6 separate regions of the Homo sapiens genome follow, and regions 1, 2, 3, 4 and 6 are each linked to region 5. The links come from fine-mapping of genetic effects on gene expression. A gene starts in region 5. Each other region holds a variant in brackets. All regions are shown on one strand. Distances are from middle to middle.

Region 1 (5,078 bases), 230 kb before region 5:
TTTTTTATGGCTGTATAGTATTCCATGGTGTATATGTGCCACATTTTCTTAATCCAGTCTATCATTGTTGGACATTTGGGTTGGTTCCAAGTCTTTGCTATTGTGAATAGTGCCGCAATAAACATATGTGTGCATGTGTCTTTATAGCAGCATGATTTATAATCCTTTGGGTATATACCCAGTAATGGGATGGCTAAGTCAAATGGTATTTCTAGTTCAAGATCCCTGAGGAATCGCCACACTGACTTCCACAATGGTTGAACTAGTTTACACTCCCACCAACAGTATAAAAGTGTTCCTATTTCTCCACATCCTCTCCAGCACCTGTTGTTTCCTGACTTTTTAATGATCACCATTCTAACTGGTGTGAGATGGTATCTCATTGTGGTTTGGATTTGCATTTCTCTGATGGCCAGTGATGTGAGCATTTTTTCATGTGTCTTCTGGCTGCATAAATGTCTTCTTTTGAGAAGTGTCTGTTCATATCCTTCACCCACTTTTTGATGGGGCTGTTTTTTTCTTGTAGATTTGTTTGAGTTCATTGTAGATTCTGGATATTGGCCCTTTGTCAGATGAGTAGATTGCAAAAATTTTCTCCCATCCTGTAGGTTGCCTGTTCAATCTGATGGTAGCTTCTTTTGCTGTGCAGAAGCTCTCTTTAGTTTAATTAGATCCCATTTGTCAATTTTGGCTTTTGTTGCCATTGCTTTTGGTGTTTTAGACATGAAGTCCTTGCCCATGCCTATGTCCTGAATGGTATTGCCTAAGTTTTCTTCTAGGGTTTTTATGGTTTTAGGTCTAACATTTAAGTCTTTAATCCATGTTGAATTAATTTTTGTATAAGGTGTAAGGAAGGGATCCAGTTTCAGCTTTCTACATATGGCTAGCTAGTTTTCCCAGCACCATTTATTAAATAGGGAATCCTTTCCCCATTTCTTGTTTTTGTCAGGTTTGTCAAAGATCAGATGGTCGTAGATATGCGGCGTTATTTCTGAGGGCTCTGTTCTGTTCCATTGGTCTATATCTCTGTTTTGGTACCAGTACCATGCTGTTTTGGTTACTGTAGCCTTGTAGTATAGTTTGAAGTCAGGTAGCGTGATGCCTCCAACTTTGTTCTTTTGGCTTAGGATTGACTTGGCGATGTGGGCTCTTTTTTGGTTCCATATGAACTTTAGTTTTTTCCAATTCTGTGAAGAAAGTCATTGGTAGCTTGATGGGGATGGCATTGAATCTATAAATTACCTTGGGCAGTATGGGCATTTTCATGATATTGATTCTTCCTATCCATGAGCATGGAATGTTCTTCCATTTGTTTGTATCCTCTTTTATTTCACTGAGCAGTGGTTTGTAGTTCTCCTTGAAGAGGTCCTTCACATCCCTTGTAAGTTGGATTCCTATGTATTTTGTTCTCTTTGAAGCAATTGTGAATGGGAGTTCACTCATGATTTGGCTCTCTGTCTGTTATTGGTGTATAAGAATGCTTGTGATTTTTGCACATTGATTTTGTATCCTGAGACTTTGCTGAAGTTGCCTATCAGCTTAAGGAGATTTGGGGCTGAGACGATGGGGTTTTCTAGATATACAATCATGTCATCTGCAAACAGGGACAATTTGACTTTCTCTTTTCCTAATTGAATACCCTTTATTTCCTTCTCCTGCCTGATTGCCCTGGCCAGAACTTCCAACACTATGTTGAATAGGAGTGGTGAGAGAGGGCATCCCTGTCTTGTGCCAGTTTTCAAAGGGAATGCTTCCAGTTTTTGCCCATTCGGTATGATATTGGCTGTGGGTTTGTCATAGATAGCTCTTATTATTTTGAGATACATCCCATCAATACCTAATTAATTTATTGAGAGTTTTTAGGATGAAGGGTTGTTGAATTTCGTCAAAGGCCTTTTCTGCATGTATTGCGATAATCATATGGTTTTTGTCATTGGTTCTGTTTATATGCTGGATTATGTTTATTGATTTGCATATGTTGAACCAGCCTTGCATCCCAGGGATGAAGCCCACTTGATCATGGTAGATAAGCTTTTTGATGTGCTGCTGGATTCGGTTTGCCAGTAATTTATTGAGGATTTTTGCATCAATGTTCATCAGGGATATTGGTCTAAAATTCTCTTTTTTTGTTGTGTCTCTGCCAGGCTTTGGTATCAGGATGATGCTGGCTTCATAAAATGAGTTAGGGAGGATTCCCTCTTTTTCTATTGATTGGAATAGTTTCAGAAGGAATGGTACCAGCTCCTCCTTATACCTCTGGTAGAATTCGGCTGTGAATCCATCTGGTCCTGGACTTTTTTTGGTTGGTAAGCTATTAATTATTGCCTCAATTTCAGAGCCTGTTATTGGTCTCTTCAGAGACTCAACTTCTTCCTGCTTTAGTCTTGGGAGGGTGTATGTGTTGAGGAATTTATCCATTTCTTCTAGATTTTCTAGTTTATTTGCATAGAGGTGTTTATAGCATTCTCTGATGGTAGTTTGTATTTCTGTGGGATCGGTGGTGGTATCCCCTTTATCATTTTTTATTGCATCTATTTGATTCTTCCCTCTTTTCTTCTTTATTAGACTTGCTGGCGGTCCATCAATTTTGTTGATATTTTCAAAAAACCAGCTCCTGGATTCATTTTTTGAAGGGTTTTTTGTGTCTATTTCCTTCAGTTCTGCTCTGATCTTAGTCATTTCTTGCCTTCTGCTAGCTTTTGAATGTGTTTGCTCTTGCTTCTCTAGTTCCTTTTTTTTTTTTTTTTTTTTTTTTTGAGATGGAGTTTTGCTGTTGCCTAGGCTGGAGTGCAGTGGCGCCATCTCGGCTGATTGCAAGCTCCGCCTCCCAGGTTCATGCCATTCTCCTGCCTCAGCCTCCCGCGTAGCTGGGACTACAGGCGCCCGCCACCTCGCCCGGCTAATTTTTTGTATTTTTAGTAGAGACGGGGTTTCACCA[T/C]GTTAGCCAGGATGGTGTCGATCTCCTGACCTCGTGATCCGCCTGCCTCGGCCTCCCAAAGTGCTGGGATTACAGGCGTGAGCCACTGTGCCCGGCCTAGTTCTTTTAATTGTGATGTTAGGGTGTCAATTTTAGATTTTTCCTGCTTTCTCTTGTGGACATTTAGTGCTATAAATTTCCCTCTACACACTGCTTTGAATGTGTCCCAGAGATTCTGCTATGTTGTGTCTTTGTTCTCGTTGGTTTCAAAGAACATCTTTATTTCTGCCTTCATTTCGTTATGTACCCAGTAGTCATTCAGGAGCAGGTTGTTCAGTTTCCATGTAGTTGAGTGGTTTTAAGTGAGTTTCTTAATCCTGAGTTCTAGTTTGATTGCACTATGGTCTGAGAGAGAGTTTGTTATAATTTCTGTTCTTTTACATTTGCTGAGGAGTGCTTTACTTCCAACTAAGTGGTCAATTTTGGAATAAGTGCAGTGTGGTGCTGAAAAGAATGTATATTCTGTTGATTTGGGGTGGAGAGTTCTGTAGATGTCTATTAGGTCTGCTTGGTGCAGAGCTGAGTTCAATTCCTGGATATCCTTGTTAACTTTGTCTCGTTGATCTAATGTTGACAGTGGGGTGTTAAAGTCTCCCATTATTATTGTGTGGGAGTCTAAGTCTCTTTGTAGGTCTCTAAGGACTTGCTTTATGAATCTGGGTGCTCCTGTATTGGGTGCATATATATTTAGGATAGTTAGCTCTTCTTGTTGAATTGATCCCTTTACCATTATGTAATGGCCTTCTTTGTCTCTTTTGATCTTTGTTGGTTTAAAGTCTGTTTTATCAGAGACTAGGATTGCAACTCCTGCCTTTTTTTGTTTTCCATTTGCTTGGTAGATCTTCCTCCATCCCTTTATTTTGAGCCTATGTGTGTCTCTGCATGTGAGGTGGGTTTCCTGAATACAGCACACTGATGGGTCTTGACTCTATCCAATTTGCCAGTCTGTGTCTTTTAATTGGAATATTTAGCCCATTTACATTTAAGGTTAATATTGTTATGTGTGAATTTGATCCTGTCATTATGATGTTAGCTGGTTATTTTGCTCGTTAGTTGATGCAGTTTCTTCCTAGCCTTGATGGTCTTTACAATTTGGCATGTTTTTGCAGTGGCTGGTACCGGTTGTTCCTTTCCATGTCTAGTGCTTCCTTCAGGAGCTCTTTTAGGGCAGGCCTGGTGGTGACAAAATCTCTCAGCATTTGCCTTTCTGTAAAGGATTTTATTTCTCCTTCACTTATGGAGCTTAGTTTGGCTGGATATGAAATTCTGGGTTGAAAATTCTTTTCTTTAAGAATGCTGAATATTGGCCCCCACTCTCTTCTGGCTTGTAGAGTTTCTGCTGAGAGATCAGCTATTAGTCTGATGGGCTTCCCTTTGTGGGTAACCTGACCTTTCTCTCTGGCTGCCCTTAACATTTTTTCCTTCATTCCAACTTTGGTGAATCTGACAATTAAGTGTCTTGGAGTTGCTCTTCTTGAGGAGTATCTTTGTGGCATTCTCTGTATTTCCTGAATTTGAATGTTGGCCTGCCTTGCTAGATTGGGGAAGTTCTCCTGGATAATATCCTGCAGAGTGTTTTCCAACTTGGTTCCATTCTCCCCATCACTTTCAGGTATGACAATCAGACGTAGATTTGGTCTTTTCACATAGTCCCATATTTCTTGGAGGCTTTGTTGATTTCTATTCTTTTTTCTCTAAACTTCTCTTCTCGCTTCATTTCATTCATTTCATCTTCCATCACTGATACCCTTTCTTCCAGTTGATCGCATCAGTTACTGAGGCTTGTGCATTCGTCACTTAGTTCTCGTGCCTTGGTTTTCAGCTCCATCAGGTCCTTTAAGGACTTCTCTGCATTGGTGATTCTAGTTAGCCATTCATCTAATTTTTTTTCAAGGTTTTTAACTTCCTTGCCATGGATTCGAACTTCCTCCTTTAGCTTGGTGTAGTTTGATCATCTGAAGCCTTCTTCTCTCAACTTGTCAAAGTCATTCTCCATCCAGCTTTGTTCCATTGCTGGTGAGGAGCTGCGTTCCTTTGGAGGAGGAGAGGTACTCTGATTTTTAGAGTTTCCAGATTTTCTGCTCTGTTTTTTCCCCATCTT
Region 2 (5,078 bases), 33 kb after region 5:
TCAACTTTCAGAAATTAAGCACTCTATTGGGAGGCTGAGGCAGGCGGATCACAAGGTCAAAAGATCAAGACCATCCTGGCCAACATGGTGAAATCTCATCTCTACTAAAAATACAAAAATTAGCTGGGCGTGGTGGTGTGCGCCTGTAGTCCCAGTTACTCGGAAGGCTGAGGCAGGAGAATTGCCTGAACCCGGGAGGCGGTGGTTGCAGTGTGCCGAGATGGCACCACTGCACTCCAGGCTGGGGACAGAGCGAGACTCTGTCTCAAAAAAAGAAAAAAAAATTATGCATTTTGTTAAACTTATTGGTTTTTGTTCTTTTTATAGAGAAGTAAGTGCTGTTATAAAAAATTACAAACCTTGCAGAAATGAACAGAATGTAATACAATCCAACAGTTTCTCCTTAATAAAGGATGTTAACAGTTTGGCCAACACTCTGTATTTTTTCCTATGCATTTAGTAAGATAATTCTTCTAAAACTGGATTGTTTATACTTTGGGAATCTGGACTTTGAGAATCTACACAAGACCTGGTCTTGGGAGCCCAGTAAGTCCCATGCCCCATGTGGAAAGCCTGGATGTGGGAGCCAGGAGCATCTGCTTTTCAGACACAGCTCTGTCTCTTATGAGCATCTTTGGGCAGTTTATTTAACCTCTGTAAGTCTCAGATTTCCTCATCTGCAGATAAAAATACTACCTATGTAATAAAATTCTTGTGAGAATTAAATGAGATAATGCTATAAACGGATTAGCACGACATGAAAAATAAGTTCTTGGCAGGATGTGGTGGCTTACACCTGTAATCCCAGCACTTTGGGAGGCTGAGGTGAGTGGATCTCTTCAGTATAGGATTTTGAGAGCAGCCTGGGCAACATAGAGAGATCCTGTCTCCAAAAAAAAATAAAAAATTAGCTGGGCATGATAGTGCACACCTGTAGTCCCAGCTACTCTGGAGGCTGAGGTGGGAGGATTGCTTGAGCCAGAGAAGTTGAGGCTGCAGTGAGCTGTGATCATACCACTGGATAAATATTAATTTTTAAAAATTTTCAGTAAACCTTATTTTTTTAGATCAGTTTTAGGTTCACAGCAAAATTGAGTGGAAAGTACAGAGAGTTCCCATGTTCCTTCCCCTACAGCCTTCCCCACTATCAACATCCCCCACCAGAGTGGTACATTGTTACAGTCCATGATTCTACATTGATATATCCTTCTCACCCCAAATCCATATACACATTAGGGTTCATTCTTGATGTCGTAGGTTCTATGGGTTTTAACAAGTGTATAATGACAAGTATCCACCATTGCAGATCCAGCTCTGTACACTGAGATACAGGATACAATGCAGATACAAGATGCATTGTATCTTATATCTTCTAGATATATCAAGATACAATGTAGAATGTACTTGTATCCAAGTATCCATAGTGGATAATTTCATTGCCCTAAAAATCCTCTGTTCTCTGCCTATTCACCTCTCCCTTTCCCCTAACCTCTGGCAACCACTGATTTATTGTTTTACTGTCTTCATAGTTTTGCCATTTCCAGAATGTCATATAGTTGGAATCATACAATATTAACTTTTTATTATGCTCATTATTAGTATTACTACTACTACTGTAGGCACTTTCACTTAATATATATTGGACATTCTATTAACATATGATTTTATTAATTATTTCTAGCTTATGTATAGCATTTCACTGTATGGATGAACTTAAATGTCATATGCTTATTTTGGTTGTTTTTCAATTTTTCTTGACCATAAACCATTCTGCAGAGAATATCCTTGTATACATATATTTTCATACTTATATGTGTCTCTCCTATAAGGATTTTTGTTTTATTTTGTTTTGTTTGTTTCTTTGTTTTTTAGACAGGGTCTTGCTCTGTTGCAATCCACCTCAGCCTCCCAAGTAACTAGGACCACAGGCATGTGCCACTGCAACCACCTATTTTTTAATTTTTTAATTTTTGGAGAGGCAGATCTCCCTATGTTGCCCAGGCTGGTCTCAAACTCCTGGGCTCAAACA[G/A]TCCTCCTCCCTCAGCCTCCCAAAGTACTGGGATTACAGGCGTGAGCTGCCATGCACAGCCAAGGGGAATTGTTGAGTCAATGGGTATGAATATTTTAATAAAGTTTTACCCATTAGTTCCACACACAGTTTATTTATTTATATTTCCACTAGCAGTGTACAAGACTGTTTTTCCACATACTTGCCCAAACTGGATATTAAATTTCTTTTTAATCTTTGCTAATGGGTGACCCCAAAATTTTGTATCCTTGTTATATTATTTTACATTTAACTACTAGAGAAAACAAGCGTTTAAAGTAATCTACTGATGCTACAGTTTTTTATTTAGGTTTCTATTTTCCCAAATTCTCCTGGTCTATTTTCTTTTTATAAGGATTACTTCCTCTCTTACTTTATTTCTTTCATTCCTTTTTCCTCCATTCATCTTTCAGTTTTTTTCTCTCTCCTTTATTTACCAACGGAAGGACATTTTATGAGTCAATGCCATTTTTCCTTAATATTAAGTGGTCTCTGGGTCCTTTTAATTAATACTCTCTTTATTTTATTTGCCTTCTCTAAACAGAAGACCCCAAATGATTTCATCCTTTATTTCCCAAGTCAATATTTTCTCTTTTCTTCACTTCTCACATTTTATAGAAGAAAGTAGAATGACAGGTACTGTAGCTTCCTCACTACCTCTTTGAAATGGAAAAGGGCTGGTTTCTTTAATACTGCATTTCCTCTTTTTCCACTTCAGGCTCTCATCTGCAGCATGTAATTGTTTCTTTGGCATTCCAAATACTACCCTGTTGCTGATAGAAAATGTCACAGCTTGTGTGAGTGCCAGCTGCAGCCAATTATATATTAAATGACCTGCATTGGCATGAACAGGTTTGGCAGAATGCATTACGCTTTTGTGAGATGAAATTTTGCTTCGATAAATCGTGCTTGCATGGGATTTGACCTCAGGATGAAATCACACTCTTGTCTGAGCTGAAACAGCGGCAGCAGTCAAAGTACCAAACAACCATGATAGCATGAATATCCAAATGGTATTTTTTGATTGTGAAAATTATATCATACATAATAACACAATGGCCGTGAATAGGGCTTTACTTTTTTATTCCAAACTCATTATATTCTAGTTTTCCAAAGTTGGAATCTTTTCCTTATTGTCCACAGAAATAATGTATAGACAGACATATTCCCTACAAAAGCATGTAACATATTGATTTAAATTTTATGTTAAGCAAATCAAAATCATTTGGTATTTATTGTGAAAGTAATTTGTACCTTCAAGGAACATTTTCACATTTTCCAAGATAAATTAAGTTAGTTCACACCTTAGAATTACAAGACTTTCAGGAGCCTAAATCATCAAAATAATAACTCATTGAAAAAAAAAGTAATATTTTAATGGCTTGTATCATATAAACTCAAACGTGAGTTTACCAAAAGCATTATTACCATTACATTTAATCTTAAAGTGGTAATGTCATAGTTAAAATCAAATCTATATCCATTAGCATAGTATGCAGTCACTGAAATCTGATTAGACAAACTGTGTAGAGACAAGGAAAGATATTTATAGCTATCTAAACTGAATAAAGCATACTATTAAAATATAATTGCAGGCCTACATATACCATCAGATTAAGATAGCTATCTTTTATTCTGGGGATTAAGTTGTCTACATCCTGCTATTACATTGTCTTTCCCATAAAAAATTACTCTATACTAAGTCCAAACAATGGCTAATGTCCAATGTTTATTCAGTTATTCAACAGTTATAGCTTTCATTAAGCACATGTCAGTAAGTCACTTGACTAATGTTCATATTATGCCATCAATCTTCAGAATGGATTTAATCCCCGTGACTACCTTTAGCAATCTTGAAAATCTGGTACTGAATAGGTTTGTATTGATCAAGGGTGATATTCAAATTATTAAGAATCAGTCAGGGCTGGGCGCAGTGGCTCATGCCTGTAATCCCAGCACTTTGGGAGGCCAAAGCGGGTGGATCACCTGAGGTCAGGAGTTTGAGAGCAGTCTGGCCAACATGGTGAAACCCTGTCTCTACTAAAAATTCAAAAAATTAGCTGGGTGTGGTGGTGGGTGCCTGTAATCCCAGCTAGTTGGGAGGCTGAGGCAGGAGAATTGCTTGAACCCCGGAGACAGAGGTTGCAGTGGGCCAAGATCGTGCCACTGCGCTACAGTGTGGACGACAGTGCGAGACTCCGTCTCAAAAAAAAAAAAGAAATCAATCAGAACAGACACTTTAGCAAGCACCAGACACAGCCATCATGAATGTAGGGACTGAAGATCCATTCCGGATAGAAGTGGAAGGGTGCTTCTAGAAACAGGCAGGGTGGAGCCCTGATTTTCCGGATATTGGCATAGTTTGATGAATAACACACTACTTGGTTTACAAAGAGAAGGCATAGGTGCTAGTTCCAATTTTGCCAATTTTCCTTTAAGCCTCAGATTCTATATCTGTAAAATAAACTATTCAAAGAATAAGATCATATATTTTGGCAAACACTATACATTTTATAGTGAGTACAATAGAACCCATGAGAACTTAGCAGTCATTAATGAAATATTAACATTTTATTCATTTACTTGTAGACACAATTCAAAATCTTGTTCTCAGTTATATCCCTTAATGAGTCCCATGACAGAACTTCGACTAGGTAATGCAGATTTGAGATAATACATACTGATTCAATCTAAAATCTGTCCCTGTGAATTATAAATGATGCTTGGAAATGTCAACTGTGTAGGAAGTTACCTTCTTCTGATTATAAAAGCCATATTTGTGTCCAGTGAAAAGAGAAGTACATGCCACATGTGAATATAGGGTTCAGAGTTAAGACACGTTTTCTACAACAAACTCCTCCAGGGTTGATTGCAATTTGCTGAACATTTATAGTACAAACAATGCTGATAATTTATTAATCCTATAGAGTTTTACTATTATTTTTCTCAGTTCCAATTCATTTTCTTCCTTCAATGTTCTCTTGCCTTACATAGTGGAGTTTCGGGTGGTTTCCTAGTTTATTTGACCTCA
Region 3 (5,078 bases), 110 kb before region 5:
TGGGTGAATCACCTGAGGTCAAAGAGTTCAAGACCAGCCTGGCCAACATGGTGAAACCCCATCTCTACTAAAAATACAAAAATTAGCCAGGTGTGGTGGCACACATCTGTAATCTCAGCTATTTGGGAGGCTGAGGCAGAAGAATCACTTGAACCCCGGAGGCAGAGGTTGCAGTGAGCTGAGATTGCACCACTGCACTCCAGCCTGGGCGACAGAGCAAGACTCTGTCTCAAAAAAAAAAAAAAGAAATGAGAAAGTATTTCAGAGAGAAATACAAACAATAGACAGAAACTACATGAAGTAGTTACAGAAAGAGTTGCAATGAAGAAAAATATAAAACATCTTTAGAAAACTAATTGCTCCAAAGAAAACTGACTAAACCAAATTCAATAGGTACACATTGTGAGTTTTCAACATGCACCAAAGTAAAGCAAATTATGATGATACCAAGAAAGATAGGAAATGGGAATTGGAAGCATGGTATTGTAAGATTCTTACACTATATGTACAACAATAAAATATTATTGGAAGATAGACTATGATTAAAGATATATACATTGTAAACCCTAGAGAAACCATAAAATAAATGATAATTAATCAAAAATCAGGCCAAAAGGAGGAATACAATAGGATAAACAAAATTAGAGAACAGAAAACAATTAGAGATATCAGATTACAATCCAATCATATCAATAATTAGTTTTATAAAATAGTCTAAACACAAATTAAAAGCCAAGAGATTGTCAGATTAGATAAAAAAGAAAGATCTAAATATACACTGACTGTAAGAAACCCATTTTAAGCCAGATGTGGTGGCATGCACATATAATCCCAGCTACTTACTACTTAGGCTGAGGCGAGCTTAAACACAGGAGTTCAAGACCACCCTGGGCAACACAGTGAGACTTTGCATCAAAAAACAGAAACCCACTTTAAACAAGAAAACATCCATTAAAAGCTAAAGGACAGAAAAAGATAGACCATTCAAACCTAACCGAAGAAACCTGGAATGGCTATATTACTACCAAAGTAGACTTCAGAACAAGCACAGTTACCACAGATAAAAAGACACATCACATAATCACAAAAGGGGCATAAAATTCATACACATTTATATGTACCTAACAAGAGATCTCCAAAACATACAAAGCAAAAAACTTAAAGAACTGAAAGGAGAAACAGGCAAATCAATGGTTATAATCAGAGGCTTCAACACAACCAGTAAACAGAAAATCAGTAGCCTGAATAATTCTATCCACCAACCTACTTGCCCAAATGGAACATTCAACCCAGCAAAACACATATTAATTTCAAGTACACTTGAAACATTCACCAAGATTAATCATATATGTTCTGGGCCATAAAACAAACATCAACAAATTTAAACGAACTGAAACGGTTTCTCCCCTGACCATAATGAATTTAAACTAGAAATCAGTAACAGAAAGGGATCTGAAAATCTCAAAATATTTAGAAGTTAAATAACATATTTCTAAATAAACAATGGGTAAAAGAAAGTCAGAAGAGAAATTAGAAAATACTTTGAATTGAATGAAAATAAAAATATGACATATCAAAACTTACAGGAAGCAGCTAAAGCAGTGCTTAAAGGAAAATTTATAGCAGCAAATGCTTACAACAGAAAGACATTCTCAAATCAATAATTTAAACTTCCACCTTAAGAAGAGCATATTAAATCCAAAGCAGGCAGAAGGAAGGAATCTTAAAAGAGCATAAATAAATAAAATTAAAAACAGAGAACATTCAATTGAAACAAATGCCAGTTCTTTCAAAGTATCAATAAAATCGATACATCGTTAACCAGGCTGATCAAGACATAAAAAGACAAAAATTATAATCTCACATGCTAAGAAAAAAAAACGTGAAAGACTACATAACTGCATGATTCCATTTATTTGATACTTTGGAAACTGCAAAACTACAGGAACGAAAAACAGTGCAGTGATTCTAAGGTGCTAGGATGGGGAGAAGGGCTAACCTCAAAGGGCAGTAGTGAATATTTAGGGTTGACAGACCCATTGTATATGCTGAAGGTAAGTTACACAACAGTATATGTTCGTCAAAACTCACAGAATTATAACTAAAAGAGGTAAGTTTTACTATAGGTAAATTGTCTCAATAAATCTTACTTTAAAAAGTAAAAACTAAACCAAAACAGAAACTAATAAATAATTCTACCCAAAGGTTACTGAGGGCCCTAAAACCTCCCAGAATATAGCAAGCACCTTCCTGCTACAAGGCTTTTATAGTTGCTCTTTCCTCCACCTGGAAAGCTCTTTCAACAGGGCTCAAATCCACAGCTCAGATTTCTGTCAAATGTTTCTACTGTAAAAAAGCATTTCTTGATAATCCTAATACGCCACGTGAATTATTACCTGTCACATTACCCTGCTTTCTTGGTTTTCAAAGCACATATCACTCTCTAATATTGTTTTATATTACTGATTAACTACTATTTATTCCACGTGGAGAAGGGCTTTTTATCTTTTGCTGACTATAGTATCTCAAATAGGCCAGG[C/T]GCTGTGGCTCAGCTCATGTCTGTAATCACAGCACTTTGGGAGACCGAGGCAGGTAGATCGCCTGAGCTCAGGAGTTTGAGGGCAGCCTGAGCAAAATGTTGAAACCCCATCTCTACAAAAATCAGCTGGGCCTGGTGGCACACACCTGCAGTCCTAGCTACTCAGGAGGCTGAGGTGGGAGGATCACCTGGGCCAGGGAAGGTCGAGGCTGCAGTGAGCTGTGATTGTGTGATTGGAGACAGAGAGAGAGAGAGAGAGAGAGAGAATTTTATGTATATATAAAATATATTATTATATAATATATATAATTAGTTTTTTCTTAATTTATTTACCAGTATTTATACATATATAATTTACATATATATTAATGTATAAATTGTATCTATATAATTATATAAATACTGGTAAATTAGTTTAGAATAAACCGAATAGCCTCTGCATGTCACATGAGTAGGACTATATGACTGTTCCTCTCCGAGTTCAACAGAACAGATTTGCTCGACAGAGTTTAGAGCAGAAAGGCTGTGGTCTAGGAGACTTCAGGTACAGAAAGACGGTTAATAAAACACCATGTTAAAAAGTGGTTATTTTAAGCAAAAATCTATAAACTAAATGATGAGGCCTCCACTTCTTTCAACCAATTGGCTTCTGGAATGTAGGCTGCCAGGCTTATACTTAATAGTATTTTTCTCAACGGAAACTAACTAGCCTAAGAACAAGAGATACTCTCAATCTGAGAACCCATAAAATTGCTAGACCAGTTCCTGACCATCAACTGTGATGTCTACCTGTCCAAAGTCCCTACATAAAGCTTCAAATTAGCTCTGAATGTCTGGGGAAAATGGCAAAGTTCTTAGAAGCGAAAGAAAGTCAAACTGTCATCAGAACTGTCAACACCAATACTAGGCCATAAGACATGGAGTAATATGTTTTAAGATCATCTAGAAAAGAAAATTCAAGGCAAGAATTTAAAATCCAGTCAAACTACCCTGCAAATATAAATAAGGATTATTGTTCCTATGAGCCCTGCCTAAGAAATCTACTGGAGAATAAACTTTTGAAAAGCCAAAATGATTGGTGATACCAGCATAAAGACTGGTGAACTCTCCCATTTAATAAATGAAGAAACGTCCCTACTGCCTCCAGACTTCCTGTCAGCCTCCCTGGTGGGCACCCCTCGAGGGTGTTTTGTTGTGTTGCCTCCCCGATGTCCCATCTGACCAACATGCCTGCAAGCTAGAAAGTGGCTATTTTGGCTTATGGCCACTCTCCAGACACAGACTTCAAGACCAAATTACAGGAAATAACAACAAATAGCTTCTAACATAAAAAAAAGAAAATATTCCAAGACAGTGCAAAACAGAAAAGAAAAAAAAGACAGCTACACACTATGTGCCTCCTATGAAAACACACACTACCAACTATGAAGTATCTTGCCAACCCCTACTCCCAAACCCTGAATCTCACTGTGCCCTGAGATTTAAATACCGATTTAAGGAAACACAGGATACAGTAACATGTTAAATAGCATGAAAACATAATCAGCAAGATACAGGCTATGGAAAATTGTACAGAATAAATAAGATAGCAACAAATGGCTAACACAAGGGCAGAGAAGAAACTAAAGGAAATTCATAAACTATAACAGACTTAAGTGGTATATCAATCAAATGCAGTGTGTGGATCTCCTTTGGATACTGAATGCCATATGGAAAATAAAATAAAGTGAATCCCAGACTCAACTATACACAAAAAATATTTGCACTGATAATTCCATCAAACATTTAAGGAATAATGCAAATTCTATACAAATTTTTCAGAAAACAGGAAGAAAGCATTTCCCAACTCATTTCATGAAGCAAGTGTTGGCCTAATAACAAGGCCAGAAAAGTTGAGAATAATTAGAAAGACTTGTGTACCCATCACCAAGAATTAAGCATTAAAAATTGGATTTTTTTAAGCCTTTACTTTCAAAATATTTTTTATGAAGAAGATATCAGAAACTAATTTACTATGATATGTTTTTCATGAGACTATCAGGTCAGCAAGAATCCTTTTTACCTTATGGCATATATAAATAAAAACAGTATTTGTCCAATGGTGCTACAGTAAATGGAGGATGCTGCTCCAAGACAGAGTCAAACAAATGGTCTGGGGGCTCCCACCCTTAAAGTTGAGGGCCTCAATGTCTCAGTACACTTAAAACTGGCACAATAATATATATCGCTGTACAAGGCTTATGAAACTGATTCATAATCAGGTCTGATTTCATAAGGGCAAAAACCTTATGCCTCTCTGGTTCTTTGACACGTGGAAAGTTACTAAACAAGGCAGTTTGTTTAAAAACCATGTACAATGGAATCAAAGAAACAGGGAAAGGGAAATGAAAATCGTGCAAGAAGACAAGGAGAAAGATTTTTTTTATTTTGTAACTTTCTGTAAACTGAATTTTTAACCTTGTAGATATATTAAAAATAAAATTACAGGCCGGGCACAGTGGCTCATGCTTGTAATACCAGCATTTTGGGAGGCCGGGAC
Region 4 (5,078 bases), 140 kb before region 5:
TGGACAAGGCAAAAACATGCTCTCACCACTTCTACTCGAATTGTATTCTAGCCAGTGTGATAGGCAATATAAACAAGATAAAATAAAACACATCCAGATTGAAAAAGAAAAAGTAAAAATGTCTTCATTTGCAGCTATCATAACTATCTAAATCTACACAAATCTACTAGAATATGTAAGTCTAGTTAAATCTGCAAGTAGAGGTTAATATAACCTGTATTTCTAAATACTATCAATGAGTAATCAGAATTTAAAAATTAAAGGACAAGCCAATTTTATCCAGATTTTTTATAAAATTGATAATCTGATTCTCAAATTTATATAAAAATGAGAAGGACCTAAAATCCTCTGGAAAAAAAATCCATATGGTGAAAAAAAAAGCAAAACCTCAATTCTTAACTTCACACTGTATACAAAGGTTCACTCAAAATGGCTATGCGGCATATACATATAATAGATTACTACTGAGCAACAACAAGTAACTGCATGTAATAACATGGATACACATAAGTTGACACATACATACAAAATTTTTCTGAATGAAAGTCAAACTCCATCTGTACTGTATTCCACTTATGTAAAATCCTAGGCCATATAACTAATGTACAATGAGGACAGATCAGTGGATGCCTGGGAATGGGAAAGTGGGGAAACAGAAAATTTTTCTAAGAAATAAATATGTTCATTACCGTGACTGTGATGACAGTTTCAAAGGTGCATTTTTGTGTCAAAAGTCATCAACTTTAAATATATGCAGTTTATTGTACATACCTCAATAAAGCTGTAAAATTTTTTTATTTCTCTAAAAATTATCTAATCAAATAGAAAGGATATAAATACATTACAAAGACCTAAAGCAAAACACTGATGACTATTTATAAAAAATACCGTAAGAAGATTTTACAAAATATTCCTATTAAAAAATTATAAGAAGTATATTGAACAAATTCCTACCACCCGTCATAACCAAGTAGCGCAACTGGTGGTAGTGAGTCTTCTTTTTGATATCAGCTGTATTACTGTTACGGTTTATATTCTTTCAGTAATAATTTGTTGTTGTTGTTTTTAATTTTATTAGCACACAGATATGCATAACAGGACATCCCCCAAAATTGATCATTTCATACCTGCACTGGGGAGCGAATTGTGACCTTCTTACTTCCTTCTACTGTATCAATTTGACAAACAATAGATCTTTCAACGCCAGACTCTCTGTGTCTTACAGTGTACAGACGTCGTCCCACTTTTGTTAAAGGAATCTTATCAGCAGTAGAATGGTTAACAGGTGCTAAATTAAGTAAGTATGTTTAAAAGTTTTTATTATAATTCATTACATATTAATTTTACATATGTTACATATTAGAAATTTCAGATGATTCTTAAACTTATAAATAATAGTCACTAGAGTCTTTGGATATAGTCCATAAAAGGGATATTTTAAGAAGCCAGCATATATTTCCACAGCATTAATTAAAAAACTCCCATTCAGGAGTTTAACCCAAGACAACAATAGCAAACGTTTCAAAAATGAGTAATGAGAGCAAGTACTATAAAATACAAGAATACTGATCTCTGGTTTGCTGTCAGAATAACCAGAGCATAATACCTTTTGGTAGACATTGGTAAATATCAAGGTGACTACAATTTTTGTTTTTAATTTTTCCAACAACTTGTGTCACTTTTCCTTTATATCTTGGACTTGATTAAATAAAATTTTATATATATTTACCTAAAACACATGTTGTATTGGGGATAAAATTACTTACTTGCATAAATTTCATTTACCATCCCATCCATAAAAATGTTAAAAAAAAAGACGTAAAATTTATAAGAACATTAATTACAACGCTATGACAACACCTGAAACACCTGTTACATGTTATTTTCTAACTAGAAACACAAGCTATTTTAGTAGCCTACCCCCCTATGTCTAATTAATCTTTTAAATGATGCCCTCCTCAATAATTACTTAAATGCCAGAGTATCAAAAAGTGGTGTAGGTGAGGCTCTGGGACTATTTAACTTCACAATGACTACATATTATGATACTTTAAGAATGTATATATTTCACCTCCAATAAAAATGAAAAACTTTTGGGAAGCAGAAAAGACAAAGGAAAAAACCTTCATCTCAACAGGCAGAACATAAAAAAA[A/C]AAAAACCATTTATAAATCCTAAAGCCATTAAAAATTGCCATCTGCATGAATTCACACTTAGAATTCTTTCAGTTGCAAAACTGGTGGAATACTATCAACGGATACCAAATGTGAATAAAAGAACCCCCACAAACATCTAAACATCCACGGTCTATAAAAGCAGAATGAGGGCGAGATCTAATATTTTTCCTCCCAACAACAAAGCAGTAAATTGCCATGCTCTAAATAATGCAGAGGATAAAGAAAGAGTTTGGAATACAAAGTTTTAGTAACAATAGTAACCAAGACACTGCAAAGACAAAAAACAGTTCTTGACCTATTAGAAAGGATATTTTAAAAAAACAAAAACAAAAACAAAAAAAACCTTGCTAAGATTCTACAAAAGAGTAAAATAACATGTAAATTGTAATTTAAAACAAAATAGCCCCAGGAAGGTAATTTTTCAACTACTTACTAAGAAGAATGAAGAAGAGTTTGCTGCTTAGGCTGGTCATTGCATTGAAATGATCATTGTCCTTGGTTCGGATATAATCCATACTTAAACTTTCTCCATTTTTCAATACATATGATTTTGCCATAGGAATGTTGAGTACACTAAAAGAATCACTTGGCGAAACAGAAATAGTAAGTCCAAGGGAATTTAAAATCATAAATGGTGCTAGATCCTTTACGAAGTCAGCTGAAGATCCAGTGGCAGCTTCTGTAAATGCCTAATAAGAAAGAGTTATGCTAAATAAAATGAAATGTGTAAAATTAAATGACAAGGAGAACAGTAAAGGACAAATGACAACTAAGTTATTAAACTTCTTATTCAACAGACAGATCAATCAGACAAGTATCTCAATATTTAAAGTTTCAAATTTCTTTTCTTACCTTGACTAAATTGTTTAACATTACAAGACCACATTTGGATAATGTAATGTTTAATTGGTCTTTTGAATGGAAACTGATGACAGTTTTATATTCTGGCACTTTGTAGTTTTCTTCTTCAGGATCTGACTCAACAATGGCCATTTTTGCTTTCTTTTTCATCTAAAATGATAAATCATAGAAATATAAGGAAAAATTCTAAGAACACAACATAACTAGACAAATCCCAATACCAACATTAGAAAGGTCAGTACATTTTATCTTTTCTAATTTCAGTAAGTTCTATTGCCTTATTGAAATTACTTGGACATCAGCCAACTAAGGTCATAAAGGACAGAAGTATTAGAGAAAATAAATCATGTCATCATCAGTGATAGTAAAATGGCAGACACAATTTAGAAGGAAAAATAAAAACCTAAAATTACTATGTGTACCCGGGATCTGAATATAAAAGCACATACTTCAAAGCAACATAAAAACTCAGACAGAAAAAAGTAACTTAATGTATTGGTCATGCTAATAATAAAGAACAGAAACCTAGAGACTTACAAAGGCAGACAATAGTAGCAGAACAGTGTTATAAACCTAGAGCTCATAAGAATCAATACCCTTTACCATTTTTTAGGAGTCACAGATCTGCTGACCATGTGTATTCTAACCTAAAAACCACCAAGGAATTCCTTTTCATATCCTTCATCTAAAATATCTGGAAAATAAAATTAAGTGATCTAATATGAAAAGAGCTCAACATGCTAAGCTAGTCACCTCTGTTGTTACTTTAACTGGCTTTAAGCCACTGAAAATCTGTCTGCAGGTTGACCAAGTCATTATTAGGTAGGAAACACGTGAGTAATTCTGCAGTCTCTTGCTTCAGAAGCAAAATTTCATCCACCTAAAGGCCCCGATTCTCATGATTATATAAATCCACAATATATTTCAAACAAATAATATACATTCCTGCACACATGCAAACATCCAAAGGATGAAGGAAACTCAGGATAGACAACAACCTACAAGATGATGACACAGGCATTATAGCATAGTGGTTTAGAGTGGATTTAACGCCTCTGCAGCTGGATTTGCATCCCATCTTTTCCACTTTGTAGCTATTATTACTTCAAGAAGTCTCTTAACCTCCCTGGTCTCAGTCCCTTCACATGTTAAATAAAAACTGTATCTACCTCCAAGAGTTGTTGTAAGGATTAAAATATTTAGAACAATGTCTAAACTGTGTTCTAAATTATGTTCTAAATTGTTCTAAATTATGTAACAAGTAACATAATACTTGTTACATAATTGTATTAGAAGCATAGGCAACATTGGCCTTAGATTTGAAAATTATATTCAGAGGGCAAACAAGGAAGCATGTGGGCAAGGCTCATGATGAGACAACCTGAACCTTGTTGTGATTAAAATAAAGTGTCGAGTGTGGTATAAACATTCTCAATTTTGGAAAATTTTTTCAGTCTTCAAATATACGTTGATGAGGGAATGTTAATAAAGGGGGAGGCTATACATGTGCAGAAGTAGGTGGTATACGGGAAATCTCTGTTCCTTCTTCTCAATTTTGCTGTGAACCTAAATCTGTTCTTAAAAAAATAAAGTCTTTTAAAATACATATATATATATATACACACATAGACATATATAGATATACCTTGATACCAAGATTCCATGGTCTAAAATCCTCAGTCTGATCAATTTCTAAGGGTTCAAGCAAAGGCTCCCATACACCAAACATTTCATTATAATAATGCACCTACAGAGAGAATTTTTTAAATTAAAAATGATCTTCCATCCTGTTTCCCACCATGTTTTTTAGCCCTGTTATTTCTTCTATATAAAAACCAGTCTACATGCCATTCAGTAGCTTCCTATAAGCACTCCCTCAGCATTTTCCTCACCTGGCTAACTTCATAGTACATATTCGCTCTTCACAATTTAGTCCAGATAAAACCCCTTTTTAAGCATCTTTCCTTGATTCTACATTACATAAAAGTATAAGGCATATATTTCTAATTCTTCATATTTCTATTAGAAGAGATTATTATCCA
Region 5 (5,078 bases):
CACTGAATTGTACATTTTAAAAGAGTGAAATTTATGGTATATGAAATAAATCTCAAAAAAAAAAAAAAAACGTACAACCCAATTTAAAACCACTCTTAGGTATTTATCCAAGAGAAATAACAATTATGTTCACACAAACACCCGTACGTGAATGTTTATGACGGCTTTATTTATAACCTCCAAAAACTGAAATATTCTTCAACCAGCAAACAGATAAATACTTACAGTCAGGCGGGCGCAGTGGCTCACGCCTGTAATCCCAGCACTTTGGGAGGCAGAGGCAGGCGGATTACTTGAGGTCAGGAGTTTGAGACCAGCCTGGCCAACATTGCAAAACCCCCTCTCTACTAAAAATTAGCCGGGCGTGGTGGCGGGGTGAGATCAACTGCAAAGGAGCAGCTGAGAGAATTCGGGAGGCTTGATGAACCTTTTATGTGCCATTATTGTGGTGGTGCATACATGCCTCTTAGCATTTGTCAAGACAGAACTGTATCACAAGAGTGAATTTTACTGCATGTAAATTTTAAACAAATAAATAAGTTGATTAATCACACTCTAGACAAACCTCCACCCTGAATGTGGAAGCAAGACTCCACTACAGATCAAAGTTCACCTCAAGTATTCTTAAGGCTTCCTTCTGAGGTACATGGGAGACAAATTTTATTTTCACTTTGCAACTAAGAAGCAGCATAAACAGACTGCAAGTTTCTTGTACTAATCAAACAGGCTGAGCAGCTATCACTATATCCCTAGCTTTTGTAGTCCACTCACTCTCCATCATGATACTAGGTCCCCACGGTAGTAACATTCTTTAAAATCAAACTAAACTACCTGTTTACATTATCTCATAAACGAGAAGAGTCAAGGTAAGTATTTTAGAAGAAGACTGGAAGTGTGTGCACAGACAAGAATAAATTACTTTAAATATATATTTAAACACACACACTTCACACACAAAATTAACCCTCACTTTGGCCTGGGAAATTCATTTCACAAAGGAGTCTAATTTCTAGCGGGTGTTTAAAATAAACAAGCGCATAATGCAAAAACAGATGGAAACACTAAAAATGAGGCTCTCACTAAGGCAGAATACCACACTAAACGGACACAAGGAAAGCTCGGTCCTTCACCACCTAGGCAGCGTAGGGCCCTGTTCAGCCCGGTCTTTTGCAGGTCTGAGACGTTGCACCGCACGCCCTGGTTTTTCTTTAAAATTCGGCAATTCACTCTGACCCACATATCCTAAAGTCTTGAAAATGTTACACATTCCTAGGTCAGGCTGTTAACTGCAACCACACAAGCAACTGTTTGAGTTACTTTGCACTTGAGTTTCCTTTTTGTTATCCGCCGAACCCAGGCGAGAGAGAGCCGGCGTCCGGGTCCTAGGGCCGGAAGGGGGAGAGCAGAAAGCACCACGGGTGAAGCCAGGAATTGAGGCTGGGGAAGCAAGGAAGCGGGCGTCCCCGGTCACAGCGCCCTGCCTTCACGTGCGAGGCAGCATGCAACACGCGGGGGATTTCTGGGGCCTTCGTCATAAACCCAGGGGGGCAAAGGACAGGGATGGGACCCAGCCCAGGAAGGCGTCGTCTCGCCTCCTCGCCCCGCGCGGCTAAAGCCGGACCGTGCGGGGCCAGGGGTAGAGAACGGCCCCTCGCCGGGACTTGAACGCCAGACCCACGGAGCCCACGGCAAGTCCGCTCCGCTCGGAAAATATAGACCTTTTCATCCCGCACTCATGACCCTCTCCTTTCCCCCAAAATATAAACAACTCGAGGGCGGAGGCCAGGGAACTGCCGCCCGGCTTTACGTAACTTGACCCACAGGCGGGCGGCGGCAGGTGGCTGCACCCGGCGAGCAAGGTGCTCGAAGCCCCGAGAACGCAGGACGCCGCTCGGGCAGCGAGACGGCCGGGAAGCACGAGAGGCCGGGGAGCGGCGGCGGCGGCCTCCTTACCTTTCCAGATGCCCAGAGAGAGCTGGGACGTGTCCAAGTCCACCACATAGTCCCCCAAGAACCGGTTCAACACGTCCACGACCACCGACTCGAAAACCATGTTCCTCAGCCGTGGTGGGCACGGCAGCCGGCCCGTGCGCTCCTCCTCCCGCCGCCTTCCCCACGCCCCTCCCTCGAGGTAATTCGGTTCACCGGCTCCGGGGCGGCTTCAGCTGCGGCGCCCCCGCTGGCCCAACGCGCAGCCCTAGCGAGCCCAGCGAGAGACGGAGGCGGTCGCTCTCACGACGCGTGCGCAAGTCTGCGCGCGGCTGGAGGCGGAGCGCGGCGCAGACCTGGGCGCGCAGCCCTGAGAGGGAGGAAAGGCGGCTGCGCGGCCGCGGCTCTGGAGGGTGCCCTTTTCGCGCCGAGCCCGGCTCCTCTTTCCTGTCGGCCCCGCCTCCTCCCCATCGCCTGGCAACGGGACACCGGTCTGGAGCTACCGGATTTTTTCCGACCCCGCCCCCTCCTGCAGATCAGCGTCCCCAGCGGCCCCCCAGGGCGGGGCGGTTACGCCCGACGGGAACGCCCCTCCCCCTAGAAGGTGGTGGCCGCTTCCACGCGTATGACAGGGCTCGCCCCTGAGTAAGGGTGGGCGGATCCCAGCCCCGTCGCCAGAAGCTTCAAGGGGGCTGTCCCAGGGAGCATCTCCCCTCATCATTACAGGGTGGGAGGGTCCAGCCAGCCTGGGTGTCTTGGTGCCTGTAACCTCCCCGCCTGGTCCTCCGACCGCCTGGCTCTCAGGAGGAGTTAACTTCCTGCTGCGAGTCGAGGATGGAGTTACATAGTCCCTGCCCTGCATCTGAGATGAGCACCCATTTTTGGTCAAGTCATTTATACGGAGCTGTCTTTCATTCCAAAGAGTAACACGCTTCCCTGCAGATAAGAGTTGGAGTCAGCCGGTCTGGAAACTGCTGAACACCCTCCAAGAAATACTGGGAGTGCTGGACCCTTGACCCCTATGCCTCCACCGAACCACTGACCTAAAATAAATTACAATTACAGATCTTTCGACCTGTTTGGTCTTACTTAGAAGTAATCCCAAAGGCCTGAGGTCACAGAGATGCTAAATGTGAGGTTTAGAGAACTGTAATTAATCATCTGCAGGACCGAAAAAGTGTACATTGAGCGTTTTCTCTTTACACGTTAAATGAATAATGATGGATTTCTATTAATTCCTGTGTCATTTTACTACTTTTTGTGCATAGTCACCGACTTTTCAAAATTAAATGTTTAGGGTGTGCCTTTGCAAGTAGAATGCCTGACAAAAACTGTAAGTTTTTACCTGAGTTTATGAATGTTTTTCATATAATTTTATATTTGAAGGACCTTTATGAGGTCTCCAACCTCCTAGTCTTAAATATAATGAAGCTGAAGTGTTAGGGATGTGTGCAAGGTCATACAACCAATGTTCTGTGGAAGAACTGGAACTTGGCCCTTCTGATTGGCTACCACCCCACCTGCTTCTCTCTCATTCAGCTAACAGTCTGCTTCAGAATACCTGCACGGAGAAACGAATAGAGGCTAAAATGCCTAGGAAGGGGAAGAGCTCTACATAATGAGGCATTTTGCCATTGCACTATTAATAAGAAGCCAGATACACAGTAGCTGCAAAATTCCGCTGTTATATCTAGCGCTGCAAATTCAAAGTTACAAGAATTTCCAGAACTCCAAAAATCCATCTTAAGTATCTTGCAAACGTTTTCATATTAGTTTTCTACGATCTAGGAAAATTTTGTGGAAGTGAGGAAGGGGAAGGGATGTTGCTGAAAAGTTAGAGGTATAAGCATAAAGCAATGAAAAAAAATTCTGCTGAGGAAGAGTTAGAAATAAGTGGATGCATATTGTAACCGAATTCTTATCTAGTGTTAGATGTATATGAACATGCTTTGTAAATACTAAAAGACAACATTTTGCATTCAGTCTTTGCATTGCTTAATCCATCTAAGGAAGTTTGTAAGCAAAAATATATTAACATCATCATGTAAAAGGTATGCTCATTAAACCATTAAACCAAATTTCTGTTGTACCTTGAAAAATAAGCCCAATGACTACCATAAAAACTCGAGTTTCAAATTAGGAAGTATGTCAGTGTATGTTATTCTTTCTCTAGATCACAATTAAAATGCTATACTTCATTGTTTGATCAAATGGAAAAACAAAAGAGGGGGAGAGCATCTGAATGACCCCAAACTGCAATATCATCTAACTTTACAATAAATCTCTAACTTTGCAAGTAGGACTTGCAGTTTTATGTATACCTTCCATGCCACAGCTCTTCGTCTTTAAAGTTTTGGTGTACTGGTAGTAATCTTGGAATTTTTTTTTCTCCTAATCTTAATTCTTTTGTCCACAAGTAAATGTCATTGGTGGGCTGCTTGTCCTTATCATTCCCCATGGGCATTGTGGTAGCAGGCTAGATGGCCAGATAACAAAGCTGTTGAAGCAGACCACAAAGCTGTTGAAGCAGAAGATGTCCTGGAGGAACAAGTGTAGAAGATGGCCGTTTTATAGGTATGGGACTTTTACTGATCTAACTTCACAGAGCCCTGTGCTCCATCTGTTTATGCTTTAAAAATTTTAAACAATAAAAAGTTATTTGGAGCCTGGCATGGTAGCACATGCCTGTAGTCCCAGCTACTCCAAGGGTGAGAGGATCCCTTGAGCCCAGGAGTTTGGGGCTGCAGTAAACTATGATGGTGCCACTGCATTCCAGCCTGGGTGACACAGTGAAAAAAAAAAAAAAATTCTTTAGACCATGTGTTCCAATCCTTAATAAAAAGAGAAAAATTCACTGGAAGGGGAATACAAGCAAAAAGGTAAAAACCTTATAAGAATCTTACTTAAGGCCAGGCACAGTGGCTCATGCCTGTAATCCCAGCACTTTGGGAGACCGAGGCAGGTGGATCACCTGAAGTCAGGAGTTCGAGACCAACCTGGTCAACATGGCGAAACCCCGTCTCTACTAAAAATACAAAAAAAAAAAAAAATTAGCCAGGCATGGTGGCACACACCTGTAATCCCAGCTAGTCAGGAGGCTGAGGCAGGAGAATCGCTTGAACCCAGGAGGCAGAGGTTGCAGTGAGCCA
Region 6 (5,078 bases), 210 kb before region 5:
ATTCAACACTGCATCAGTGATATGTGTTTTGAATAGTTTCAAAAACAAATTTATAAAATACTGATTATTTTAAATAAGGAAACAAAATTTGACTTCCTTTTCTATAATACTGAAAATTGGCAATATTATTCTGAATTTACATTTGTTTTATTTATATCCCATGTGAGTACTAATTAATTTCATTTACAGGCTTAGATTATTTATCTATGGTTATGAGTGTCCACAATTACAGATTTTTACAAATTTTTCTTCCTGCCCGTTTTCAATATGTTATTCAAGCGTCAGGTAGACACAAAGGAAAATAAGGAATCTCCAGGTAATCACTCCTTCAGGGAAGTGAACCTTCCTTCCCATTTTCTATACATAAGCAATGATCGTGCAGAAATCTGGAACATAAATGAAGTTAAAGCATATGGAAAGGTGTGGCATTACATAATTTTCAAACAGCTTTCTCACTAGACTTTCCTGTTAGATACTACCATTTTAAAAGTTCTAGTTAATTATAGAACCATTGATAAACAAGAGTTCATCTTATTAAAATCCAAATATAAATTCATTTTCTATATATTTGATAAGAAATAAGAATATATTTTTGCCTAGATCCTCTATCTCCATCAAGAGAACAATGGTGTAAAACAAAAGAGCAATTCTGTCTTTTTTTTTTGCTTTTACTAGAGAAAAATTCAAGTTTTTTTTCAAAACTGGAACACAATTAATACCTGTCCTCAAGAGGTTTGAAAAGATAATTTCACTGTGGCAGAAAAACAAGGGCAATTACACTGTCAAAGAGCAGATCTCGGCTGGGTGCGGTGGCTCACGCCTGTAATCCCAGCACCTTGGGAGGCCGAGGCAGGCGGATCACGAGGTCAGATCGAGACCATCCTGGCTAACACGGTGAAACCCCATCTCTACTAAAAACACAAAAAATTAGCCGGGTGTGGTGGCAGGAGCCTGTAGTCCCAGCTACTCAGGAGGCTGAGGCAGGAGAATGGCGTGAACCCAGGAGGTGGAGTTTGCAGTCAGCCGAGATCGCGCCACTGCACTCCAGCCTGGGCGACAGAACGAGACTCCATCTCAAAAAAAAAAAATTAAAAAAAAAAAATAAAGAGCACATCTCATCTCTAAGGGCTAAAAACTGAAGAATGATGAAACTCTAAGACCACACAAGCAATGTTTACTAGTTACTAGCATATTATTTAAAATATTTTTACTGAAGAAATTTTAAATAAATGTAATCCTACCTCCAATTTTCTTTTCATGAAAATGGTAAATCACTGCTAAGATAACCACAACTTTTTTTTTTTCCGATAAATTCTTAAGGAATGAAAGGTTAAGATCATCTTTATGAATCCCATTCCATGAAATTAAGTGTCACAGGCCAAGCACAGTAAATTTGGGAAATGTCTTGCAAACAAGTAGTTTCCACAGTCTCTTTTACAAAGGCCTTGTGACTAGCAAAGTTGGAATGTAAGAAGCCAATGAAGAAACTTCCAGACTCTTCCTTCCTTAAGCATATACAAAATACAAAAATAGGCAGTATTCTTTCTAGATTTTAGAAGGAGCAGTAAGTTTTGTTTGATTTTGGCCAAGGGTGAGAGAGGAGTGGGTGCACAACAAATACAAAGTTGGTTTCCAATAAAGCAATGACTATTTTAATGGTCACTATTTGTATGTACTTATTCTAAAAAGATAAAAATACTGTGATTAAAACAATAATTGAATTTTTTGATGTTTACATAACAGTTTTTTAAAACAACTTTATGATGTTTACATATTAGTAAGTTTGTTTTCAAACAAATTTTACATACATAACCTTGATTTCTATTTAATTTGAATGAATTCTGCATAGGAAGAAATTTCAAAAAAGCTGATTTTTTTCAGTTTTTTTTGCAGTAATCTCAATATTTTCAAATTTAAAGTAGTCACTTTCAAAAAACATAGAGAATGATTTATAGAAATAAAACTTGATAAACCTAAGAATTAGAGGAGACTCAGAAATCATGTGCTGAATCAGTTAAATTAAATCACCTGTTGCTTATACTGAGCTTCTGCTGTAGTCAAGATAAATATTCCTTTGTTGATCCAAAAGCACAGCAGTCATAGGGATTAAACATTCTAACTACCAAAGATCATATACTTTTTAGAGAATTTTTTAAAGTACGTCTGATATGTTAGAGAAATAGGACAGTTTCATCTATGTTGAAATTTTTTTAAAAACCTTTATTACACAAAACATAAAATAGATTTACTAATGGATCTTTCAGAGATATATGTAACATTTTCCCTAATATTACACAGAAAAAATATATATAGTTATGTTTACGATAGAAGTTTCCAAATATTCTGAATTCATAATAGAAATATAGTAGATGCATATACAAATTAATAAGTGAATATAATGACTATTAAAACCAACTTTGTTCATTGTTTCACAAAAAATATGTGAAACAAAACGGTAAAAAGTAAAGCAAAGACATAAAAGAACGGTCTTTTTCATTCTCAGACTATAAATTATTTTACTATCTACTCTTCCATGAGAGGCCATGACTGTTTTTTATAATAGCAGTTCAATCTATATGATTTGGGGATAGAACAACAAATTCACACTCCTTTAGATTACATATGTTTATTATTATTAAAAGAAATTTGACAAAAATATCTTTAAAATGATAAATATAAAACATTAAATGGCTATTACTATTTTCTTCCTTTTTTTTTACACAGTGGCATTACATTAAAGCCCAGAAAATTTACAGAGACCATTAAAAAAAGGCATTTTGCTAACAAATAAGAAGGCAATTTAAAATAAAACCAGTGAACATCAAAATTATATTTAAGTCTAACTTGAACTCTTAAAGACAAACTATGCAATACAAAGCTATAAAATATATAAAAGCAAATCTATAATATGTTGGATGCCCTCCCTACTTTGGA[T/C]GTAAGATACATTTTTTTCTGTGCTTAAATAATACAATTATTTTGCTTTATGAAAATGTGTAGGAAAACATTTTAAAAGAAAATGTGTTTTACCTCCCTATAAATGGACATATGGGCATTATGGTATAAGTCATACAAAACATGTTAATGAAACATTCCAAGTAAAATAAAGAACATATGAATTTTAATGGTTTAGATCTGACTCATCATCATCATCATCATCATCATCATCATCACTACTGCTACTGTGAGTCATAATCCACTCCCTGTAGAATTGAATTTTCTGTAAGCATGGCAAAGGAAAAAAGAAGCACAAAGGTTAGTAGAGTATGGCAAATTGCTTGAAAACATGTAAGATTATGAAATGTTCAAAGAGTGAGAATAATTTTAAAGCAGATTTTTTCAGCTATGACTCAGACTGTAATTATGGATATAATATTCCATAACTTAATAGACCTAAGACAATTCCACTAGTTGGTACAAACTCAATGTATAAATTGGTTTGATGATATCAATAAGGTATTTTGTGAATATATTAAAATTACCATTCTATTTCTCTAATAGGCAACTTTGACCAGCAGGAAACACTGTAATAATGTGCTACCTTCTAGATAGAAAGGTACACAATAAAAGAATGTATTTTATATTTAATTATTATATGAGTGTATATAATTTAGTGAATACATCTTTTTTAGAAAATAAGAAAATAACATGAGAAACATTTGAAAGTATCAAATATTTTAAGGCACCTTCATTATATCACTTACATAAAATCTAGGCAGATGAGATGGATTTTAAATCCAGTTTATGTGTCATCTAATTATTTTCCACAGTACTGGTATTTACATATTTTTTAAGTGTTTGCTAATAATACACTAGAGCTTTGATTAAAAAAAAAAAAACAAAACCCACCACCATCAAAACAACAATCCACTTTTTATACCTGTAAGAAAAAAATGCTAACTGCAACATCCCAAGGTACTTGGTGAATCCCTACAAATATTTCAGCTAATACTGTGTAAATGCTTGCTGAAAAACAAGTAATGGCTGACAAGTGCTGTGGTTTTTAGTCATTTAAATAGCTCTTTTAGTGATTAATGATGAGACTGACCTATTAAAAATAAATATGTATCTTTAAAAGTACACAGTCAAAAGTCATGTTTTTACATCTCAAAGTTTAAAGCTTCAGAAAACAATGAGAAGCTTCACTAAAATCAAATTATCAACCATGAGAAATTATTGGTATCTCATGGCTTCCTTGTGGGTATCATAACGTGCTCACTTATAATGAGGATATATTCCTAAACTCTCCTCAACACTCATCCTTACTTCGTACTATATTTGATTTTTAGTCTAGTAAAATGTTAGTAACTTGTTAAATGCGTTCTAACAAGGGAAGGCAGGTATTGGGTAGAAATACATGTTTTGACTGTATCAGCCATGGGTGACTTCTGCAAATTTACTATCTTCCAAAGAACGATACACTGTCATTGTAGAGACTGCACAATCTGTCCATTAGAGCACAACCTCTTAATAGATTACCAGTTCTATCCCAATATACAATGATTTTGATGCTTCAAAAACATTTTAAATACAGTATAAAATCACTTAACTAAATATTGCATATTAACTCTATGGTTACATTTTTGTATATTAGAAGCCTCAGAGAAAGAGTTAGAAGTATATTTTATGCAATACTATATGCCCTGCAATAGGTAAAATACTGAAGTTTAAATCTTTACTCTGATCACATTAAATATCACAATATTTAAAATATTAAAGCCATAAAGGAAGCTTCATATTCCAACAGTTTATTGCTACCATGAGTATCTGCAAGCCTACATAACATAATGATTCCTTGTTTGTTTTCAAACAAATGATTTAATTTAGTATTCCACCTCTAAACCACAGAAACAACATGACACTGGTATAGCCTATATATGATTACTAGTTACCTACAGCATAATCCAGGTTTTAAAAAGTCGAATTTACCAAGTAAGAAAGTTGTCTAAGCAGATTCTAACTTCAAACTGTCTATTGTTCCAGATGCTACTTTGTATTATTAAAAGATACTGGTTTGCATGTGAACTGCTTATCAAATCCCACAAGTTTTATAAAGACTACACTAGAATAAAGCAGGAAGA

Evidence for each region. PIP is the estimated chance that this variant, and not a neighbour inherited with it, causes the effect. A credible set is the group of variants that fine-mapping cannot tell apart.
Region 1: its variant is the best candidate, but not a certain one, in a credible set for the expression of VPS13A in visceral fat (GTEx, PIP 0.52).
Region 2: its variant is the best candidate, but not a certain one, in a credible set for the expression of VPS13A in caudate (GTEx, PIP 0.88).
Region 3: its variant is the best candidate, but not a certain one, in a credible set for the expression of VPS13A in visceral fat (GTEx, PIP 0.57).
Region 4: its variant is the best candidate, but not a certain one, in a credible set for the expression of VPS13A in whole blood (TOPMed, PIP 0.76).
Region 6: its variant is the best candidate, but not a certain one, in a credible set for the expression of VPS13A in ileum (GTEx, PIP 0.50).

What each region holds. Positions count from the first base shown.
Region 1 is chr9:77,409,339-77,414,416 of GRCh38, reverse strand. The region is part of intron 71 of VPS13A (vacuolar protein sorting 13 homolog A); the gene reads right to left. Among named protein-coding and RNA genes, the nearest start is that of GNA14-AS1, 36 kb to the left of the region's middle. The variant T/C (reference allele first, on the strand shown) is at 2,939.
Region 2 is chr9:77,141,278-77,146,355 of GRCh38, reverse strand. No RefSeq gene overlaps it. Among named protein-coding and RNA genes, the nearest start is that of VPS13A, 34 kb to the left of the region's middle. The variant G/A (reference allele first, on the strand shown) is at 2,030.
Region 3 is chr9:77,284,952-77,290,029 of GRCh38, reverse strand. The region is part of intron 31 of VPS13A (vacuolar protein sorting 13 homolog A); the gene reads right to left. Among named protein-coding and RNA genes, the nearest start is that of VPS13A-AS1, 110 kb to the right of the region's middle. The variant C/T (reference allele first, on the strand shown) is at 2,540.
Region 4 is chr9:77,319,277-77,324,354 of GRCh38, reverse strand. It overlaps VPS13A (vacuolar protein sorting 13 homolog A), which reads right to left. Exons shown (of 72, transcript NM_033305.3): 42 at 4,682-4,783; 43 at 3,028-3,186; 44 at 2,609-2,864; 45 at 1,128-1,288. Among named protein-coding and RNA genes, the nearest start is that of GNA14-AS1, 130 kb to the left of the region's middle. The variant A/C (reference allele first, on the strand shown) is at 2,154.
Region 5 is chr9:77,174,680-77,179,757 of GRCh38, reverse strand. It overlaps VPS13A (vacuolar protein sorting 13 homolog A), which reads right to left and starts at 2,224. Exons shown (of 72, transcript NM_033305.3): 1 at 1,954-2,224. The coding sequence starts at 2,053. VPS13A-AS1 (VPS13A antisense RNA 1) reads left to right here and starts at 1,841. Exons shown (of 2, transcript NR_026668.2): 1 at 1,841-2,131; 2 at 2,852-3,002. RefSeq lists silencers at 1,059-1,228, 2,211-2,505, 2,267-2,596 and an enhancer at 2,211-2,505.
Region 6 is chr9:77,382,724-77,387,801 of GRCh38, reverse strand. All of the region lies in intron 68 of VPS13A (vacuolar protein sorting 13 homolog A), which reads right to left. Among named protein-coding and RNA genes, the nearest start is that of GNA14-AS1, 62 kb to the left of the region's middle. The variant T/C (reference allele first, on the strand shown) is at 2,935.